3 linked regions of the Homo sapiens genome follow. The main gene of each other region encodes a partner of the protein of the gene in region 3 in a complex. Each region holds a gene or a part of one and is shown on either strand. Other genes may lie near its edges.

Region 1 (7,023 bases), on a different chromosome or scaffold from region 3:
AAAAGAAAAATTCAAGTCAACTTTACACATCATAAAAAAACCAGAATAACATAAAAACACACAACTGCCTTTCATTACAAACCATGCTAAGTAAGTTCATAGGTTTCTTTAAATAATACCCATGGGTACAGAGGAAAAGCAAAGAAAGGAAGGATAAGGATGGGTGCGTAGGAAGACAACCTTCCAATTACAAGGCAGAGTAGCTCTGACCTTCTAGGAACAGGTGAGCCCCTAAGAACGTCCCAAGGGATGGAAAGCAGGTTCTCCTAACCATCTCAAAGGCACCCCTCTTAAGGTGATTGGCCAAACAGGACACGTTCACCAACACCTCTCAAGAGAAAGACAGTCTGGTGGACTTCAGTATTCCCTGATGCATCCTAGTCAAGTCCTATGGTGAATAATTTTGTGGTTGGGGAAGGGTTTCAACAGCATCCTTGTCCAAAGGTATCTTTATGGGCCACTGGAAGAAACTGGCCTCCTAGATAGGTCTATTACCTTTAAAAGGGTTTTTCTTCAGCTTTAACAGATACAATAGATTTGGAATGCAAATGAAAAAATGACAAACCTACAAAAAGAATCAAAACAGTATACAACACTGTCCTCTATCCACAAAACAAATGGATCTTTAAGTGCAACCAAAAGAGATGACAAAAGCCTTACATACAGGGTTTTATATATAAAAAAGGAGACACTTTATTCTAAAATCACCACTTAGAAATATAAACATCTTGCACAGAGTAGGGATTTTATTCACTTTAAAAACATGCCAAAAAAAATGGGAGATATTTCTGACTTGAGACAATGCTATACTCTTTTTAAAGCATGATATTAAAAAGTATTCGGAAAATTAGGCTACTTACATAAGAGGAATAAATTTAGCTCTTGCCAAAAAGCTTCCAATATAATTTCCAGCAGCCTGCCTGATGATGGCAGGATTACTTGGGTCCTGCAATTTTTTCCAGAGATGTTCCAAAAATGCCTCTGCGAATCCCTATAAAAAGAGAGGGCGTCGGTGTGATCTTTTTTAATGCCTAAGATAATCTGGCTATCAAAATCCCAAGATTTTTACTTCACCAATGTAGGGAAAAGTTCTACTATCTCATAACTATCTCATGGGCTTCATTTTTAAAACACATTGAGAGAATATCATTAAAAACAAAAGGCACCTCGGGTGTTAAATAATCCAGTGGATCCCAAACCTAGCTAAGCATCACAATCAACCCGGGGCCAGGCACAGTGGCTCACGCCTGTAATCCCAGCACTTTGGGAGGCCGAGGCGGGTGGATCACCCAAGGTCAGGAGCTCGAGACCAGCCTGGCCAACATGGAGAAACCCTGTCTCTACTAAAAATACAAAAATTAGCCAGGCATGGTGGCAGGTGCCTGTAATCCCAGCTACTTGGGAGGCTGAGGCAGGAGAATCGCTTGAACCCAGGAGGCAGAGGTTGCAGTGAGCTGAGATCATGCCACTACACTCCAGCCTGGGTGACAGAGTGAGACTCCATCTCAAAAAACAAACAAACAAAAAACAACAAAAAATTCAACCTGGGAGGTACAAATTCAATAGGTTTGTGACAGGGCTTTGGAATCCACATATTACAAAAACTCTTCAAGTGATTCCAATGTCAGCCAGAACTGGTGACCAACAATAATTCACATCCCATGGAGCTCCACATGGGCACTCCTGTGAGTGCAAAGCACCTTCCGGTCTCTGGACACACTGAACTCAACCACGAACAGAAATACGGACTAACGCACAGCTGGTATTTGAGTTAATTATGCCAATCATGGAAAAAAACAGACACAGCTTCTCACCAAAGGGTGTAACTTCCAACTTCTCCTAAATAGCGCTGTTCTAAAGCTAGGCACACCCATGTGGGCAGACTGAATTCAACCTTCTTTCCCATGACCAACACTCTCCTGATCTCTAGGAAGCCACAAAATCGTTGCAGAGAAGGAAAAGCCTTCTACATTCTTTCCCCCACCAAAAAAAAAAAAAAAAGAAGAAGAAGAAGAAAAGACAAAGCCTAAAGTTTTTAAAATTCTAGATTAATAAGTTGGTTTGGGCTAGTTACAACTCAACCCTTGGAAAGAATAAAGGAAATACAGTTAATTACCCCATATGAGATTTTAATAGAGAAAGGCTTAAGGGAAGAGCACCACCTAGTGACCAAAAGGCAGGATGACATTTTCGGAGCACCTAGCTGGGCTGGCAGGCAGCAATCTGTTTTCTCTCCAAGTGTACTGAGAAGGGAACGTGGGCCAGGCACAGTTGTTCACACCTGTAATCCCAACGCTTTGCGGGGCAGGAGGCGGGCAGATCACTTGTGGTCAGGAGTTCAAGACCAGTATGGCCAACGTGGCGAAACCCCACCTCTTCTAAAAATACAAAAATTAGCCAGGCATGGTAACCTGTGGTCCCAGCTATCGAGAGGGTAAGGACTGAGAGTCCGTTGAGCCCAAGAGGTGGAGGTTGCAGCAGTGGGCAGCAGAGCGAGACTGTGTCTCAAAAAAGAAAGGAAAAGAAAACAAAAAAAGAAAGGAGAATGCGATTTTATTAAGCAGACTAGCAAGTAAGCTCAAAGAAAAGAATTATTTACTTCATGGTCTCCGTCCACCCCAGTTTTTAGGGAAAATTTTTGGGCAAAAACAAAGTAAGCTAAGATAATGTTAATCACATTCTTACTCACCAATTTGAAACTACAGAGGTAAAACATGAAAAACTGTACATGGCAGGAGGCATGGGTGGGCAACAGGAGTTTGTCAAAGATGTTTATCAGGTCGCGATATAGATCCTTTGTTTTGCCGTTATCAACCTTACCTATGGAGAAAATCTGGCATCTCAGTTTTTATAAAGACATATTTTCAAGTTTCATCTGCCATATTTTTTATAAACACAACACCATTAAAAAACAACATTATCCAGCCAAGCACAGTGGCTCCTGCCTGCAATCCCAGCACTTTGGGAGGCCAAAGTGAGAGGGAGCCCGGGAGTTCAAGGGCAGCCTGGGGAACACAGGGAAGCTCTGTCTCTACAAAAAATCAAAAAATTAGCCAGGCATGGTGGCACGCCTGTGATCCCAGCTACATGGGAGGCTGAGGCGGATGAACCGCTTGAGCCCAGGAGGTCAAGGCTGCAGTAAGCCATGTTTGTGCGACTGCATTCCAGCCTGGGTTAGAGTAAGACCGTGGCTATTTAAAAAAAAAAGAAAGACAGACATTATCCATTAAAATACCATTAAAACAAAATGCTACTTTTAGTTTACACAGATTTTCCTCTGAATATAATAATCTAACACCTGCAAGGAAGCAGGCCCTCACCTCACACACTGTGGCAAGGTCAGAAATGCAAACCCTTCTGAAGAGCAATTCTATCATTCGTGTAGCAAAAGACCTCTAATCCGATCATTTTACTGTTAGTAAACAGCTGAATATATAGGCACAAGTATGTTCATTATAACTGTTACTTATCATGGTGAAAACAGTAAAAGACAGTTAAACCCATGTGACCAACAACATTTATTATTACGACTTTTTTTTTTAGAGATGGGGTCTTGTTATGTTGCCCAGGATAGTTAGTCTTGAACTCCTGGCCTCAGTGATCCTCCCACCTTGGCCTAAGTGCTGGGATTCAATAACAATTATTTTAAAACAGGCAATGATATGAGAAAATGTTTATCTTCAGCATCCATGTAAAGGGCAGATTATGAAACACTTGTGTTTAGTGTGACACCCAAATTCACTAAAAAATACTCTCCTACATATACAGACGCTAACAGAAAAGGGAAAAAAGTCAAACTTCAAAATGCTCACAATGGTTCTCTGAAGAGTAGAAATGTGGCCATTTAAATTGTTTTTATCCTTTCCTGTAGTTTCCAAATTCTCTAATCAACATGTATTATTTTTATAACAGCAAGACCGTTAAAACAGTAATGCAGTCAACTCAGATTCCAGTTCTATTATTCTGACTCACTGAGCTCATCTTAAATCTTAGCAATGTGAATGGAAAAAAATTCTGTTTTCGCCTGGCAAAGCCTTTAAAGTTCCATGAAGTCAAGAAGCACATATAGTACTAACACTGGCACAACAATGGTGCCAGGCAAAGACCCTCTAAACTCAATACATAACGGAGCACCATATATTAGTGCACCCTACATCATTCTTCAGTGCATTCAGCAACTTGAGCGTAATTTGATCTAAAACTGGCCAAACTCCATATATAATCTTTCAATACAACAATCAGTGAAAAGACAGAAGACAAATATAACTCAGCCAGAATCCCAGTCCCATTTTCAAGCTATGTGACTGGCAAGTAACTTGACCTCTTTAAATCATCTTAAACTCATACTCAATAGATATTTTTACAGGATTTTTAGTATTACTAGAGATAATGGATGGAAAATGCCCAGCACAAAGCCAGGTACACTGCAGGTGTTCAATAAACAGTAGCTACTGTGATTTACCATCTACATAGCAGACATCCTTCATGTAGGACAAAACCAAAGACATCAGGATGTCCAGGCGCTCGGCTACAGGATGCACCATCTGGTCGAGCCGTTCAGGACCAGCCTTTGTTTCATGTTCAGTTTCTTCATCTTCATCCTTTGAAGACAAAAAGTAAATACTAACATTAAAAAATTCAATGTCAAAGTGGTTTAGTAGGAAAACTGTCATAAGTGATTATTTCCCTTAAAAGATAAAACAAAGAGGCTGGGGAAAGCGGCTCACATCTATAAGCCCAGCACTTTGGGAAGCAGAGGTGGGGGGATCACTTGAGGTCAGGAGTTTGAGACCAGCCTGGCCAACATGGTAAAACTCTGTCTCTACTAAAAATACAAGAATTAGCCAGGTATGGTGGTGCACGCCTGTAATTCCAGTTACTCAGGAGGCAGAGGCAGGAAAATAGCTTGAACTGGGAGGTGGAGGAGGCTACAGTGAGCCGAGTTCGTGTGCTCCAGCCTGGGCAACAGAGGAAGACTCTGTGCCCCACCAAAAAAAAAAAAAAAAAACTAAACTAAAACAAAGAAATGGACCACGCACAGTGGCTCACGCCTATAATTACCAACACTTTGGGAGGCCAAGGCAGGAGGATCACTTGAGCTCAGGAACTTGAGACCAGCCTGGGCAACACAGTGAGACCTGTCTCTACAAAAATAGAAAAAAAGTAGCTGGGTGCGGTGGTACACTGTAGTCCCAGCTACTCGGGGAGGCTGAGGTGGGCAGATCACTTGGGCCCAGGAGGTCGAGGCTGGAGTGGGCCAAGATCACACACTGCCACACTCCAGCCTGGGCAACAGAGTGAGACCCTGTCTCAAATTAAAAAAGAAAGAAAAGAAAGAAAGAAATGCAGACACCTTTCCAGGCAGGGGTCTCATTCAGGGATGTGAATCAGAACCACCAGTGAAATTTAAAATAAAAGCCAAGACTCACAGCACCAGCTTCTGATTCTCATTGAGAAGACCCAATGAGACCTATCCATGCAAAAATCACAGATGCCCCCTACCTCTGCTCCTGGTGCCCACCATGGCGGGTGCTTTTGGTGCCGGGCCCCCTTTTGCAGGTCGGGATATCCACCTCCCCACTGCTGTGAGTACTGGCGGCCAATAGCTCACAGCCGCCTACTTTCTCCAGAGCTGCCCTGAGCAGAAAGGAGCCAGGACCACCCTTGCACTCTTTCCAGCCCCTCCCCCTTAGAACCAATGACTGATTGACAAGGCATCAGAAAAGGACATCTCCTTGGTCTCAAGCTGGGAACAAACTCTGTAGACCAATCCATGCCCCAGAATGCCTGGTGGGAGCAGGCTGTAGCGACCTCCCAAGTGAGACCCGGCCCCCGTTTAGCTCCCCTGCCCTCTTCTGCTCCCTGACACCCTCTGTCCCAAGGGCACCTGAATCCCTGTCTCAGACTCTCCTTCCACTGAACCCAACTTCAGATACCACCCAAAAGAAGTAATGCTATAAAGTGTACAAGTGGTAAAATGCAGAAATTAAACAGGTATGCTTTTCTATTAACCACGCCCTCACAGACAGCATCTGGCTTACAAAAACAAACACTGAAAGTTACAAGAACAAAAGTGAAACATACTTCACCAAACCCAAATTCAAAGCCTTGGAAATAGACCAACTATGCTAAGTGCTAAATGACATGGCAGCAAATTACTCATATAAGGAATCGTTTTCAAGTTTGCTGAACTATTTTAATTCTTTCAATCTAAAGCCTTAACAAAGATGAGCAGCACTAGCTGTTTCCACCCTTTATGATAAACTTCATCTCCACTTTCATTAATAAACTGCTAACCATATTAAACAATCCTTCCGTGGAATCTGTCCCACCACAAGTTTGAGTTGCTGTTTCTTCAGCATCTTCAATACCCTGCCGGGATGCATTCACCTATAACAAAGGGAGAAAAAAAAAGAATAAAAGGATTTAAAAAATACAACTATGTTATTTTGGGATGGAAATTCATCTGATATACGCATGTTCAAGGTGTCCAGATTAGTGCCTTATATCACACCCCAACACAATACACAATTATGGTGCAAGCCTGTAAACTGACCTAGGTCATGAAGGAATTTAAATATAATAAACCAAGCCCCTTTTACTACATACTTATATAAAATCGACAACTATCACATGATGCTCTATGCCAGGCAGCCTCAACAAATTCAACATTTATTCTAGCTCTGATATGGTCTGGCTCTGTGTCCCCACCCAAATCACTTTTTTTTTTTTTTTTGAGGCAGAGTTTTGCTCTTGTTGCCCAGGCTGGAATACAATGGCAAGATCTCGGCTCACCGCAAACTCCGCCCCCCAGGTTCAAGAGATTCTCCTGCCTCAGCCTCCCGAGTAGCTGGGATTACAGTCATGTGCCACTGTGCCCAGCTAATTTTGTATTTTTAGTAGAGATGGGGTTACTCCATGTTAGTCAGGCTGGTCTCGAACTCCTGACCTCAGGTGATCCACCGGCCTCAGCTTCCCAAAGTGCTGGAATTACAGGCATGAGCCACCGCGCCTGGCCCCAAA
Region 2 (6,137 bases), on a different chromosome or scaffold from region 3:
AATATTGGTTCTTAGACACCCTATGCTAGTGCCCGATCTCCTCTTTATTATATAAGCACTTTTAAACATGGAGGGACCTATTCTAGAATTTTGTCATGGATCAATCAGTACTAACCTTATGTGTTTATAATCTTTACAACCCACCCTTTCCCCTTCATTGAAAGGCAGGACTTTTGTCCATTTGTGGTCTGTTCACTACTCCTGCTCGCCGTGGGATGAGGGATATGGAGCTGGCACAGTGGGGAGCAGGGGGCACATCCGGAAGATGACACTATCACCTCCAAGACCCCACATCTCATGAGAGTGAGTGGGAAATCACTGAGGATGTGGAAGGAGGGGAAATGACCCCAAGGAAGTCAGAAGACCTGGGTTGTGTGCATCCCTTAGACCAAAGGTTCCAAGTGTGCACAGGCCTCAGGAAGGCAGGAGCTCCACTTGTTAAAAAAGGGTCAGGTGTTTCTGGAAATGACTCAAGAGACTATGCCCAAACCCTAAGAAAACAGAACCAATAGTGGTGACCGGGACATTTTATTCAAGAGAAGTCAAAAGCCAGGCCCAGACAGCTGAATAGCAGGGGACTCCCCAAAAGAGGAGAATGGGAAGAGGAAGACAGGAGGAAAAACACCCCTTCTGTCCCATTTCCCTTGCACTCTATCCCCTAAGGGTTAACCCCCAATTCCCCTCCTCCCCAGCCCAAACCCCATCTCCCTTTAATCACATCTGATACTGAGCAGCCCAGCAGGGAACAAAGAGACCATTTAGAGAAATGGGGCCGAGAAAGTGACCCCCGCACTCTGGGGCGGCTGCCTGGATGCCAGCACAAAGGCGGCATTTCAGAGCTGAAATTTCAGCACCCAACTTGATTAAAGGATTCCACAGGCTTGGAGGAGGGTGGATGGGAGTGTGAAGTCCACTGCTCCCTGAATTAACCCTTCTCCAGGGCAGCGGACACCCCTCCCACCAATGCAGATCCTCACCATTCACTCCCCACATCCCATCCCAGGGCCAGGCTGCACCTAGGCCTGGAGGCCCTGCCTCCTGCAGAGGTTAGGGAAGCCCAGCTCCTCCTCTTTGAAGGGGAGCTGGCAGTGGAATGGAGGTTAAGGCTGGCATATTCAGGGAGCCAGTTTACCCTCTATCCCTGTTCATGTCAATATACACCCTCCCCCTGACCCCCTCTAGGAGGGAGGAGCCAGTGTGACTGGTCTTACCTCAGGTTGGGTAAGCAGGGTGGAGAAAGGAAGAGGACCCATTAGAACCTCAGGCAGAGGAAGGGGGAACTCCAGCTCTGACTTAATGTAACACCTGGAACCCAGGAGCACCACCACCCCAGCACCATGTCCCCAAGGCCTCAGGGGATCACCAGCCCCAAATAGGAGGGAAAGGATATCTTATAGAGGCTAGGAAGAAGGCATGGGTGTGGCACACCAAAGAGGTGGGCCACAGAGGACAGCGTGTGGGCAGAGTCCTGAGGAGGAGTGGGGACAGAGCCATGGGGGCAGGGGTAGGCAGGTGCTCGGTCCTTGCTCCAGCTGCTGACTTGCCCAGCAGGGCTCTGCCTGGGGAGGGTGGGAGATCAGCACACCCCCACGCTTCCTGCTGGGGCACTGCTCCTGAAAGGGGATCCGAGCCCACGATAAGAGGCTCGAAGCAGGTCCTTAGGAAACAATGGGTGGCTTGATGAGACCTGCTCTGTGATACTCCTGAGAAGGGAGAAGCCCCTGCAGCCAGTCCCCACTGGAAAGGAAATTGGGGGTTTCCGTGGCAACCAGCTCCCTGGGCACAAAGACTTGTCTGTCTGCTTGGAAGGCAGCTGAGGTGTCTCCCCTGCAGCAGCCTTTGCTCTGGGGAACAGGGAGATGGAGGGAAGGATGTGGGGGATCCAAAGGGGCTAAGGGCCCCTGGTGCTTCTTAAGGAGCTGACAGTCACAGGGCCACTGGAATAGGTGCATGCTCCACGCAGCATGGCGGTAACGGGGAAGCAACAGGTGGTGACATTGCAGATAAGCAGAGGGGAAGGGGGTTGGAAAGTTGAATATTTTATTATTTACACATATAAAGTGAGAATGAAAATTGGGCATGGGGCAAGGGCAGGAAGATGACTCCAGCTCAGTCGGTGATGATGAGCTCGTCCACCCCCCAGTCTTCATAGCTCCCATCTGGCAGGTAACGGCGAATGATGATGGGGATCTTTCGGGCCCTGTGGCAGGGGAGAAGTCACAAGTACATGAGGGCTGGTGACCCCAGCTCTGCCGCAGAAGGAACAGATTGTGTGCAAAACACAAGCAAAGAGAAGTCTTAGGAGCAGCCTCTTGGGGCTGATGAGTGTACTTTGTAAGAAAGCAATTACAAGAAAAAGAAAGTTTTTATATCAGACAAGAGGGGGAAGAATGACAGAATATTGGTAAGGCCTCCTGCAGCAGGAACAGGGAAATTCCAACAGCCAGAAGACGTCCATGTCTCATCAGTGCCCTCCCACTTTCCCTGCCTCCTCTTCTCTCTTCCTCCTACTTCCTGGTGAGCTGTTCCTAAGGATCTGTAGGAATAAGCATCAACTTCTCCAGCCAGGCAAGTGGGAGCAAAGGGTGCAACAGAGAGCCCAACAGATGCCTCCCAGAGATTTGGAGAAGTGAACCATGATTTGAGTGACTTACTTGAGTTCCTTCATGGCAATGAGCAGAGGATCTGTCTCCCCCTCCAGCTCCACCATCACAGGGGCACACATCCTGTAGGGATAGGGACAGGTGTTAGGGAGACTACAAACCCAGGGAGAAGGGCCCAACAGGCAGTGAGGGTGGAACGGCATCCTGGTCCCCACCTAGAAACGTCATCTTCTAGGTAGGCAGGCACAGTAGGGAGTGGTGTGTAGGGGCACTGCCAGAGATCTTCCCTGGCAGAGGCCTATCACAGACTCCGGAGTCCAGCGGCCACAGCAGAATGTCCTGGTGGAAAGGGAGACATGTGCAAAGGCACACCATTCTAACTGCTCCAACCCCAGAGCCTTGCCTCAGTGCCCAGTGCACCTCATTTCAATTTCTATTTTCTCTCTCTACTTTTTGGAGACAAGGTTTCACTCCCATTGCCCAGACTGGAGTGCAATGGGGAGATCGTGGCTCACTGCAACCTCCACCTCCCAGGCTCAAGCAATTCTCCTGCTTGGGACTACAGGCATACACCACCAGCTATGCTAATTTTTTTATTTTTTGTATAGATGGGTGAAATTAACATTTCGCCATGTTGCCCAGGCTGGTCTCGAACTCCTGGGCTCAAGCAATCCGCCTGCCTCAGCCTTCCAGATTGCTGGGATGAAAGGCATGAGCCACCATGCCCGGCATCATTTCCATTCTCTATAGACACAACACCTCAGTAGAGGCCCTGCCCTTCCTGCCCAGCCCTCCCCACCCTTCACCTGAGGCCAGCAGTCAGGGGGCTCACCTGCTTACAACACTGTCATGACTCCCCTTGGCTATCAGGCCAGAGTGCAGTCTGGTCCCTGTTTGCCTTCCTAGCACAGTCCCGTGCTACTTTCCTGTATTTACTCCACATTCCAGCCATACCAAACTATTTCTGGTTCCCTAGATGCGCCATGTTGTTTCCCTTTTGTGTGCTCTTACAAGCTCTTCCTCTCCCTAAAAACCTGCGAGAGGTTCAGATGTCTCCACCCTGGAAATCGTGTGCTGACTCTTCAGTACCTGGACTCATTTTGCATATACTTTTCTTGGCACCAATCTCATTGAACTGTAACTACTTGTTTGGAAACTTTCCACATTAGACCATGAGCTCCTAGTGGCCCAGAACCACATGTGATTCACCACGGAGGCCCAGCCCCCAGCATAACACTTGGCCCACAGTGGGGACTCTACCACCAAGCAAAGGGATGCCAATTCTAGGCCCATCTCCTCTAGGAAGCCACCCCTGATGATTCCAGCTCAGGTTCACACCAACAAATCCAGAATTAACAGGAGAGCATGCTAAAAAATACAGGTTCCTGGGTCCTTCCCCAGACCCCCGGAATAGAATCTCTAGTGAAGCGGCCTGAGAGCCTGCATTTGCAAAACTGCCCAGATGATTCTGATAATCAGCTAGTCTGAGAGCTACCAGCTTACTAATTTTATTACTAAATATTTCGATTTATATTACTCCCAAAAGCCTGAAAATTTCCCAAGGGCAGAGATGAAGTATTTAACTTTCCCTATATCCTCTCTTAATAAGTATTTAAACTTTCCCAAAATATAAAGCTTTAAAGAATGTGGCAAAATACCTGATCTGCATGTGCCTGCTTTCTTTCAAAATATAAATAATTCAAGGGCATTCACTCATTCCGCACCTATTATGCACATGGAATGTGCAAGAATGTGTCCTTAAGTAATTTAATTTTTCTTGCACCATGGCTTCTACAGAGAAACACATCAACCATCCAGTTAAGAAGTAGATGTGACAAACATCATCAGCCACCAGGTGGTGCTAATGAACCAGACTGAAACCCCATCCAAAACCTACCCAACAAACAGTTGTTCTGGCCAGGTGCAGTGGCTCACGCCTCTAATCACAGCACTTTGGGAGGCTGAGACAGGTGAATCACCTGAGGTCAGGAGTTTGAGACCAGCCTGGCCAACATGGTGAAACCCCGTCTCTACTAAAAATACAAAAAATTAGCCGGCCGTGGTGGCACATGCCTGTAGTCCCAGATACTCGAGAGGCTGAGGCATGAGAATCGCTTGAACCAGGAGGTGAAGGTTGCAGTGAGCCGAGATGGCACCACTGCACTCCAGCCTAGGTGACAGAGTGAGACTCCACCTGCACCTACCAAGTGCAGAGTCCCATTATGGCTGTACAAGAGCTTACAGCAGGCAAGGAGCCACCAGATGGTGTCATAGCCCTTAAGTGGAAAGAGCACTAAAGACTGGAATGAGCTGGATCAAGCTTTGCTCCCCAAGAAAAACAGGACACTTGGCTGGGCACAGTGGCTCACGCCTGTAATCCCAGCACTTCGGGAGGCCAAGGCAGGTGAATCACCTGAGGTCACGAGTTCAAGACCAGCCCGACCAACATGGTGAAACACCGTCTCTACTAAAAATACAAAATATTAGCCAGGCATGGTGGCGTGTGCCTGTAATCCCAGCTACTCAGGAGGCTGAGGCTGGAGAATTCCTTGAACCCAGGAGGCAGAGGTTGCAATCAGCCAAGATCATGCCATTGCACTCCAGCCTGGGCAACAAGAGCAAAACTCCATCTCAAAAAAAAAAAAAAAAGAAAGAAAGAAAGAAAAGAAAAACAGGACACTTGGATTTATGAGTGGCCTGGATGCTGGATGTTGGCCTCAAAACCTTTAAGTGCTGCACACTGCCCACCAAATGAACTCTAATCTTCTGAACCTGTCACTCACAGGACCAGTGTCATCTTCTCCAGCCTTATGCCCCAAGCTGCTTATGATCCCTCATCACAAATCCACAACTGCCTGCCTCCACCTGGACCTTTCCTTGGGCTGTTTCTGGCACCTGGAGTACCCACAAAACCAACTCTCTTTACCTGTCCCCACTAGAATTCTAATCCCTTCACAAGGCTTTCCCAGTCACCTCTGCAATAACTCTCTTTGTACCTTTCATAAAGCACCACTCGCATCTGCCTTGGGTTGTGGGTACCTGTGCACAGGTCTATCTCCCCCACCAGAAAACACCTGGAGGACTGGGGATTATGTCTTTTTTTTTTTTTTTAATTATTTTTGGTAACAGAGTCTCACTCTGTCACCCAGGCTGGATTAGTGGCACGATCTTGGCTCAGTGCAACCTCCGCCTCCCAGGTTCAAGCGATTCTCTTGCCTCAGCCTCCCGAGTAGCTGGGATTATAGGCGCGCGCCACCACACCCGGCTAATTTTTGTATTTTTAGTAGAGACGGGGTTTCACCATGTTGGCCAGGCTGCTCTCGAACTCCTGACCTCAGGTGATCCGCCCACCTTGGCCTCCCACAGTGCTCGGATTCCAGGCGTGAGCCACCGCGCCCGGCTGGGACTACATCTTTAATCATCTCAGCATCCTATCAAGTGCTAATGCAGTATCTTTCTTCAGTGCTGAAAGACTGTTTAACTTGCAAATAAGCAGTCTATTTGTTTTAAAAATAACTTATGAATTCTTCTTTC
Region 3 (7,952 bases):
TCTTCATGCATTCCAGCAAAGTCAGCATGTCTTCCTGGGACCAACGGTCTGGTAAAGAGTAACAGAGGCCATCATGCCTGGCTCATGCTATCCCCCCGATCTGTTCCCCAGTTCTTGAGTGCTCAACTCTTCCTCCCTAGGGCATCCCAGCCCCTGGTTGCTTCCCATCTGAAGGCACAGACAAGATATGGCTCAGCCCTAAGGAAACTGTGGCCATATTGGATCAGGGCAGGGACTCCAGTCCAGACCATGCTATACCTAGAAAGCCAGGCTCGAACTCAAGTCTGGCTTGCTTCAAGGCTATTATCATTTATACTGTGCCAAGCTGCAACGGGCAGCTATTTGCTGTAAGGGGAAGAGGGGTGGAAATGAAGGTACAGTGATTCAGGGCTTTGTGGGAAACGAGGTAGCTTGTCAGAGAAGGAGGGAAGCAGGGAAGCAATATATCTAAATGTGCTGCCAAGTTCAAGTTCTGAGTGGATATTCTAAATGTGCAACGACTGAGAATGGGGTGTGGACAGTAAGGAAAATCCATGCAGATGTCTCTCCTGCACAGCTGGAAACCAATGTTAGAGACACCCACCACCCCCTAGCCCCTTAAAGCAGATCAAGGGAGAATTTCTGGCAAATAAGAAAAAGGAAACAGAAGCAGAAGCAGGATACAGGGCAGCTCTGAGGCAAGGTAGGCAGGTGCACAGAAACTCTCAGGGCCCTGCTCCAGGGAGAACCCCCAGAATTACAAGCTGTCTTGTCAGCCCAACTACCCAGGGAAGCAAGAACAGGTCTGGAACAGTTATTTTTCAGCCACTGAAATGCAGCCCCAGAGAGCTCTAGGCCACTGTGGATGGGCTGGGAGAATAGCCACCCAAGGCCAGAAGTCAAAAGGGCTCTCCATTTTCATTTGCATCTGGTAACCTGGGCCAGAGATTCTGCAGAATGGGCCACGTGGACCCATAATCCCCTCTCCCCTCAATGTCCCACAAGCATGGCCAGCTGTCCAGCTTCATCCTACTCTCTATCCCCATCTAGACTGGATCACTGCTGAATGAGGCAGAGATCTAGTTGAGTACATATATCCCATGGCTTGGGGCCTAAAACCACCAAAACAGCCCTTTTCTCCACCTGCCTCTACAAAAGCCTCATGGTCTTCCTAAAAAGCCTGAGAAGCCTTCCCCAACCCCTTCCTGACCCTTCCTCTACACTCATCCTTCCTCCCATTCCAGGACACTGGGCTGGGACACACTTCAGGCTGAATGGGAACCCCAGAAGGCAGGCCTCCTCTAACACAGAGGGTGAGGGACAGGGAGAGAGGGGAGGTGAGCCACTCCAGGCCAAATAATTTGGATTCAGCCAAACCCCAAGTGTGGGAGATGCTTGATTCATAAATACTCAAGGCACTTTCTCCCCCAGTTCAGTGTATGCAGACTGAAAAAGCCCTTGAAGAAGGGAGTGAGCCCCGCAGCCACGAGGGAAAGAGGGTTTAAGTTTCAGAGGGCCGGGGGTGGATGCCCCTACCTTGGCCTTTGGGGGCGGCCATTTCCAGGTCTGTGGGGCAGTCGGCTTCTCCGTTCATCCTCCAGCTGTCCAGCCACCTCCTCGGTCGTGCTGGCCGGGCAACCCGGGGTCAAAGCCACCTCACCCTTTGGAAGACATACCAGTTCCCACTCAGGAAGGCTGAGAGGTGAACGACTAACGACTTTCTAACCGCCCAGAGTAGAAGGGGGCAGGTCCACACTCTGAGAGACTCAGCCATGACCTTATTAGACTTAAGGGGTCTATGGGAATGGGAGTGCGCCCCTCCTCTTCCTCGTGACCCCCTCCCCCAGCCCCTGCAGCCCGGCTCCGCGGCGCGCGCCCTCCCCTGGCCACGCGAGGGCCTGCTCCTAGCTCCCGCGTGCAGCGAGCGCCCGCCCTCCGCCCCGCTTCCCAACCCCAGCCAAAAAAAAAAAAAAAGAAAAAATCTCCTCCTCCTCGGAGCGCCCGCCCCGGGGAGGCCCCAGGCTGGAGGGCGGGGGAAGAGGAAGGGCGGGTAAAGGGCGCGCGCGGCCACGGAAGCGGGCACGCGCCCCAGTCTCCTCCTCCCGCCTCCCCCCGGCCGGTTCCCCCCGCCTCCGCAACCCGGCGGGGACCCGGACGCAGCGCAGCCGCCGCCAGCCCCGGAGCGGAGCGGCCGCACCGCCCCCGGGGACCGGATCCGGATTCCCGCCGCTCCCCCCTCCCGGGCTCCCTTCGCCGTCCCCGCCCGCACAGGCGGGCAAGCAGCCGGAGAGAAGCGGCCTAGCCTGCCCCCCGCCCCCGAGCCACCCACCCCGGCCAGAGGCGCCGCCACCGCCCAGCCACCCCGACGCGCACGGAGGAGCCCGGCACAGAGGCGCGACCGCGGCGGGAACCGCCGCCTCCTCCCCCGAGCCTGCGGCCCAGCCCCGCCGGCGCCCCCGCCCCGGCCTCCGGGGAGCCGAGCCAAGGAGAGGGCGGGAGGACGGCGGCCGGGAGGCGGGGGCGCAGCGCTCACCGGCCCCGCCGCCCCCTCCGGCGGCCGGGGAGAACTGCGCCTGCCGGCTCCGAGAAGCGCGGGCTCCTCCGCCAGCGGCCGGGGCTCGGCTCAGGCCTCGCTTCCTGCCTTCCCCTCCCCCGGCTCTCGGCGTCCTCCCAAGTGCCCTGGTCTGCTCGCGCCCGGTCGCCTGCTCGGTGGTCGCTTCGGGTCCCCGCTGGGCGCCCACCGCACCCCGCGGTTCGCTCCCGCCGTCCGGCCCCGACCCCAGCGCGCGTCCTCAGCCGCCTCGGTTACCCGGCGCAGCGCGGCCTCCGGGCTTCCCGCTCCAGCGGCTCCCTCCCTGGCTCTGAGTGGCGGCGCCCTCCCCCGCTCGGCCGGGCACAGCCGCAGCTCCCTCCCGCGGCGGCAGCGGCTCCTCCTCCGGGCGAGGCGGCGGCGCTGGGGCGGCGGCTGCTGCTGCTGTGGCGGCGGCGGCGGCGGCGGCGGCTGTGGCTGCTGCCTGCTGCTCCTCGCGGCGAAAAGCACAAAGCACAGCGCCCTCCGCCTGCAGGCAGCCCGCCCGCCGCCGGCCCCGGCCTCAGCTCGCACACCCCCCGCCGCCGCCGCAGCCTCAGCCGCCGGAGCGGGGAGGAGGAGGGAGAAGGGAGGAGGAGGAGCGGGAGGGGGGGCGGGAGAAGCGGGGCAGCGAGCGCGTCCTTCCCCGTAGAGCGCACACCGACCCCCGGGGAGCGAGCGCCAGCCCGCCCGCCTCGCCGGCTCCGCTCCCTCCCACAGCCTGCCCGGGCGGGCTCCGCGGGGGGCAGCTGGGAGGAGGGGCGGGAGCTGGGGGGACCCGGGCGGCCGAGGCGGAGGGAAGGAAGGAGGGGAGGGGGGTGGTGGTGGTGGTGCTGGCGGCGGCGGCGGCTGCTGCTGCTGCTGCTGCCGCCGCCGGGGAAGGGGGGGGGGGCCGGGGCAGGGAGACACGCAGCCGCCCGGATGGCGGCGGGGCTCGGAGCCTAGGCGGGCGGGCGGGCGCCGAGAGCGACCTCGCCAGACCCGCGGGGGAACTAGCAGGCTTCGCCGGCGAGGGAGGGCCGAGGTGCGGCCGCGGAGAGGGTGCCCGGAGGTGCCCCCGGCGTCCGGGGAGGCTCGGGGGGCGCCCACAGCCCTGCTCCGGAGCTCTCCCCCAAGTTCTCCCAGCTCAGACTAGGGCTTCCAGGCCAGCTCTCTCCCGCCTCCCGGAGCGAGCGGTCCGCGCCCACCCTCATCCCCCGGAGCGTGGCCGCTGGTTTGGGGCGCACGCACGCCGATCGCGGCGTCCAGCTTCGGTGCCTACCTCGCGGTCCTCTCCTTGCCGAACGGCACATACGAAACTTAAAAAAAAACCCGAAAACTAAAACCTCTGCATTAAAAAAAAAAAATCCCCGTTGCTCTTTACACCCCGGAAACGGCAAGGGAACGACGGGCTCCGGCGGAGGGGCCGCTGTGGGAGCCGGTTCAATCCAGCCCGGCATGGTTCTCCAGGCCTGCCCGGGCGCATGAAGATCGGCGCCGCCGCCACTCGTAGCAACCCCTCTCCCCCGAAATCCGCGGCTCCCGGGCTCACTTACCGAGCGTGTGGATGGGAGCGCAGGCCGGGGGCACCTGGGAGCACGGCGGGCCGAACAGTCGAGCCGCAGCTCCGCTGCAGCCGACGCCGGGGCAGCGAGTCGCCAGACAAAGCCCGAGATGGCGAAGCGGAGCGACGGCTAATGGCGAGCCCCACGCGCCGCGCTCCGCCCGCCCCGCTCCGCCCGCCCGCCCGCCCGCCTCGGCGCAGCGCAGCGCCGCTCCGAGCGCTTGCCCGTCAGAGCCGCCTCGGCGCCGCCGCCTCCCGGGCCACCCCGGCCTCGCCTGGCCCCTCCGCCTCCTCCGGGCGGCTCAGCCTCACCCCTTCCCTCCCACTGCTCTAGGGGTTGCACAAAAAAAATTTTTTTTTTTTAAAGAAAAATGGTTTTCGTCTTTTTTTTTTCTTTTTGCAGGGCGGGCATGTTGAGACTTTTGGATATTTCTGCCCCCAGCTCGCACTCACCTGCGGAGCCGCCGGGAGGGCTAGGGGTGGGGGCGCGCGGGGCTGGAGCCGGCGAGCGCGGGTTGAAAGCCAGCCAAGCTCTGCAGCGCCCGACCCGGGCGTGTACGCCGCCGCCAGTCCCCGCAGAGAAATCGTCCTCCTACCCCGCCTCCATCGCTCTGCGTTTCTCTTCCAATCAGCCGGTCGCTTGGTGGCTCCTCCATTCTCCGGCCAAGCCCAGCTGCCTAGAGCGAGCTCCACTCCTCCATCTGTTCGCCGGGGTCCTCGCTCCCCTGCCGGGGCCGGCGAGACGGCGTGAGGCCGGAGGGGGATTTGCAAGGAAACCTGCCTGCTTCCCGCTCCCATTGCTCCATCCCCGCTGCCTCCTGCCTCCTGCTTCTCTCCTGCGTCTTTCCAACTCTCCCCTGTCGCCACTGGTGTGTGTCTGAGTGTGTGCGCGGTTTTTTTTTTTTAATTGCTCTTTGCTTTTGCAACCCTGAAGCAAAAGGGGGGGGGGGTAGTTACAGGGAAAAAAAAAGCGAGAAAGAAGCTCTTAGATTTGCAACACATCGGAAAACCGGGGGAGCACCCCGCCTTATCCGATCTCCATGCTCCGCAAGGGCCTTCCGGGTTTTAGGACAAGCTTCTCAATGTCCCGTTTCGCTGGGTTTAGGATCCGAGGAGTCCGAGCAAAAAGTTCTCCCCCTGGGTCGTAGTGACGGGTGTCGGGGTGGGAGTTGCGGGGATTTTTCAAGAAGCAGCAGCTACCCCGGCGTCGGTCACTGGGCCGGGGTAGGGGAAAGAGCAAAATCCCAGTGGGTTTGCGCGAGGGATCTTCTAGGGTCGAGGCGGGTGTGGGGGGAGTTGGAACCGGGAGACACCGCTTGGCGCATCTCTCCCTCGGTCTCTACCTCCTGTCCTATGCCAGCTCCCCCTTTAATTTTTTTCCTCTCCTTTAATCTAATTTCTTCCAACTCCACCTTTGTTGTTACCGGCGTCACACCCGGACCAGCCAATCCCCGCCACGCAATCAGCTTGTCAAAAAGCCTCGGCCATCCCTAGGAAAGCAGGCCGCAGGCGCTGCCCCCCGGCGGCGGCGGGCAGCCGCGAGGGGAGCCCAGCACCCGGTTCTCGCTGCCCCGGGTGGCAGCGGGGCAGCCTCCGACAAGACGTCCCTTGGTTCACTGTCCTGCAGGCCGGGGATGAAAGGCCTGGACAGGGTCCACCACCCACTCTCCCACTGCCACGGCCGTGGTTGACTGTCTTTGCCTCCCCTTTTCAGAGGAAAGGTTATCAGGACAGGACGCAGGGAGCCAGAAGACCATCTGAAGGAAGCCTGCTTCCAACGGGCCCAGCCTCCAGCCACCGCTCCTGGGGCAGCGCCATTGCTCCTGGCTCTCAGGCTGCCAGTCTCCCACACCGACGCTCTACTGCCCGCATCTCGGCCAGCTGGGTCACCCAGCCCCTTTCGACTCTCCCCTGGCACGCAGCCTTCTCCTTCACTCGGCCTGCCTCGCTGCTGCTGTAATTCCTCTTGTCTCCTGGGAGAAATGAGATTGCTTTCCCAGGACTTCCACATCCCACTTCTATCAGGTTTCACCAACAGGGAGGAAGCCCTGTCAAGATCTGGTGTGTCCTGTTTTTTTTTTTTTTTTTTCCCAGAGGGCACTGGCATGTAGGAGAAGCGGATTTACCACTAGTAGATGTTAATGAAATTTCAGCTTCTAGGCCCCTAACTTGCAGGACCTGCCCAAGGCCCTGAACTTAATTTTGTTTTCATCATTTGGTATTTTTTTGTTAAAAGAGCCACCGACCACCTCCCCGCTACCCCAGAACTGCACGTGTTTCTGGCCCTACAAACCCAGATCGTCCCTTGGAATATACACAGGGCAATTTGTGTAGGATCACACTGCGCTAAAAGTGAGGCATGGTGGGCTAGGCGCACTGGCTCACACCTGTAATCCCAGCACTTTGGGAGACCAAGACAGGAGGTCTTAAGTGATTAAGCCCAGGAGTTCGAGATCAGCTTAGACAACATAGCAAGATGCTGCCTCTACAAACACACACACCCCCTATTATAATATGTCAAAAAAAAAAAAAAAAAAAGGAAAAGTGAGGCATAGAACTGACTTTATTGTTTTGACTAGGAAAGAGCAAAGGGTTTGGAATCAAAAGTCCCAACTTCCCCACCTTCTTAATAGTGTGTGAATCTGAGTGCCTTATTAACCTTCCCTGGTCCCAGTTTCGTATCTGTAAAGTTAGAATAGCAATCCTGTTTAATTTGCTTCTCTCACCAGGGATCAGAAGGCCAAATGAGATGATGTATGTAAAATTGTAAAGTCCTCCACAGATGGCACTTGCCACATTACAGAGAACTTGAGACCCCCCCCCACCAATAACGTTCCAAATCTTCCACATGCAGATCTGGAGTCCAGGTGTCCTGGCTCCTGGCCCTGAACTTTTTGGCTGGGCCAAGGGGCTTTTCGGTAAAGTGCTTTGGAATAAAACAGGATGAACATGAATCATAAGAATGAGTATTTATTGATTCCTTGGGCAGCAAAAACTATGGCTGGCACCCTTCCCACTTGGAAACGAATTGGCTTGTTTTACATCTATTTCGTCTGTGGTGAGGTCAGGAGTCCAAGACTTGGGCTAACGGCCAGAGTATGAGGAATCTGCCCTTGGCCCTTTTTCTTTGCCCCATTTCCCAGTTCATCTCCCTCCTCACCCTCCAGCCTTCTGGCATGTGCCTTGAAGCAGAGCGCTGGCATTCAATAACCCCAGCCCAGGCTGGTGACAAAGCGGGATCCTAGCTACACAATTTCCACTTGGCCTCAGTATTTCCCCAGGTTGCCAGCATCCAAGCACCAGCTTATATAAAACCCCCAGAGTGCCTGGAATGCGTTAACCAAAGTGTGGTACTTAAATTACCAGTCTACAGGGAGTAATTTTAGATGGTATACCAATATTTTCAGATTTATGTATTTTAATGCATATTGGAAATGTTCTGTTTTTAAATTTTTATTTAAGATGGTATAAAGACACACGTTTTTGGGCCAAGAATGTTATTGTCCCTTGTTACTTTTTTTTTTTTTTTCCTTGGGACGGAGTTTCACTCTTATTGACCAGGCTGGAGTGCAATGGCGCGATCTTGGCTCACCGCAACCTCCACCTCCTGGGTTCAAGCGATTCTCCTGCCTCAGCCTCCCAAGTAGCTGGGATTACAGGCATGCACCACCACGCCCAGCTAATTTTGTAATTTTAGTAGAGATGGGGTTTCTCCACGTTGGTCAGGCTGGTCTCGAACTCCCAACCTCAGGTGATCCGCCCACCTTGGCCTCCCAAAGTGCTGAGATTACAGGCGTGAGCCACTGCGCCCGGCCTGTCCCTTGTTATTTTTTTATTGCTGTGTAAGTCAGAGATAGTAAA

The links. The genes of interacting proteins can lie anywhere in the genome.
Region 1: UBTF (region 3) and RRN3 share a complex: the UniProt entries of both Homo sapiens proteins name them as parts of the pol I pre-initiation complex.
Region 2: UBTF (region 3) and POLR2F share a complex: the UniProt entries of both Homo sapiens proteins name them as parts of the pol I pre-initiation complex.

Annotation. Positions count from the first base shown.
Region 1 is NC_000016.10:15,070,261-15,077,283, forward strand, and holds part of RRN3 (RNA polymerase I-specific transcription initiation factor RRN3), read right to left. Parts: intron 6,391-7,023; coding exon 6,298-6,390; intron 4,602-6,297; coding exon 4,463-4,601; intron 2,821-4,462; coding exon 2,690-2,820; intron 992-2,689; coding exon 861-991; intron 1-860. UniProt on the Homo sapiens protein: Required for efficient transcription initiation by RNA polymerase I (Pol I). Required for the formation of the competent pre-initiation complex (PIC).
Region 2 is NC_000022.11:37,963,688-37,969,824, reverse strand, and holds the end of POLR2F (DNA-directed RNA polymerases I, II, and III subunit RPABC2), read right to left. Parts: intron 2,727-6,137; coding exon 2,655-2,726; intron 2,263-2,654; exon of another isoform or gene 2,201-2,262; coding exon 2,110-2,200; 3' UTR 513-2,109; downstream 1-512. UniProt on the Homo sapiens protein: DNA-dependent RNA polymerase catalyzes the transcription of DNA into RNA using the four ribonucleoside triphosphates as substrates.
Region 3 is NC_000017.11:44,216,657-44,224,608, forward strand, and holds the start of UBTF (nucleolar transcription factor 1), read right to left. Parts: upstream 3,020-7,952; 5' UTR 2,789-3,019; intron 1,641-2,788; 5' UTR 1,574-1,640; coding exon 1,516-1,573; intron 49-1,515; coding exon 1-48. UniProt on the Homo sapiens protein: Recognizes the ribosomal RNA gene promoter and activates transcription mediated by RNA polymerase I (Pol I) through cooperative interactions with the transcription factor SL1/TIF-IB complex.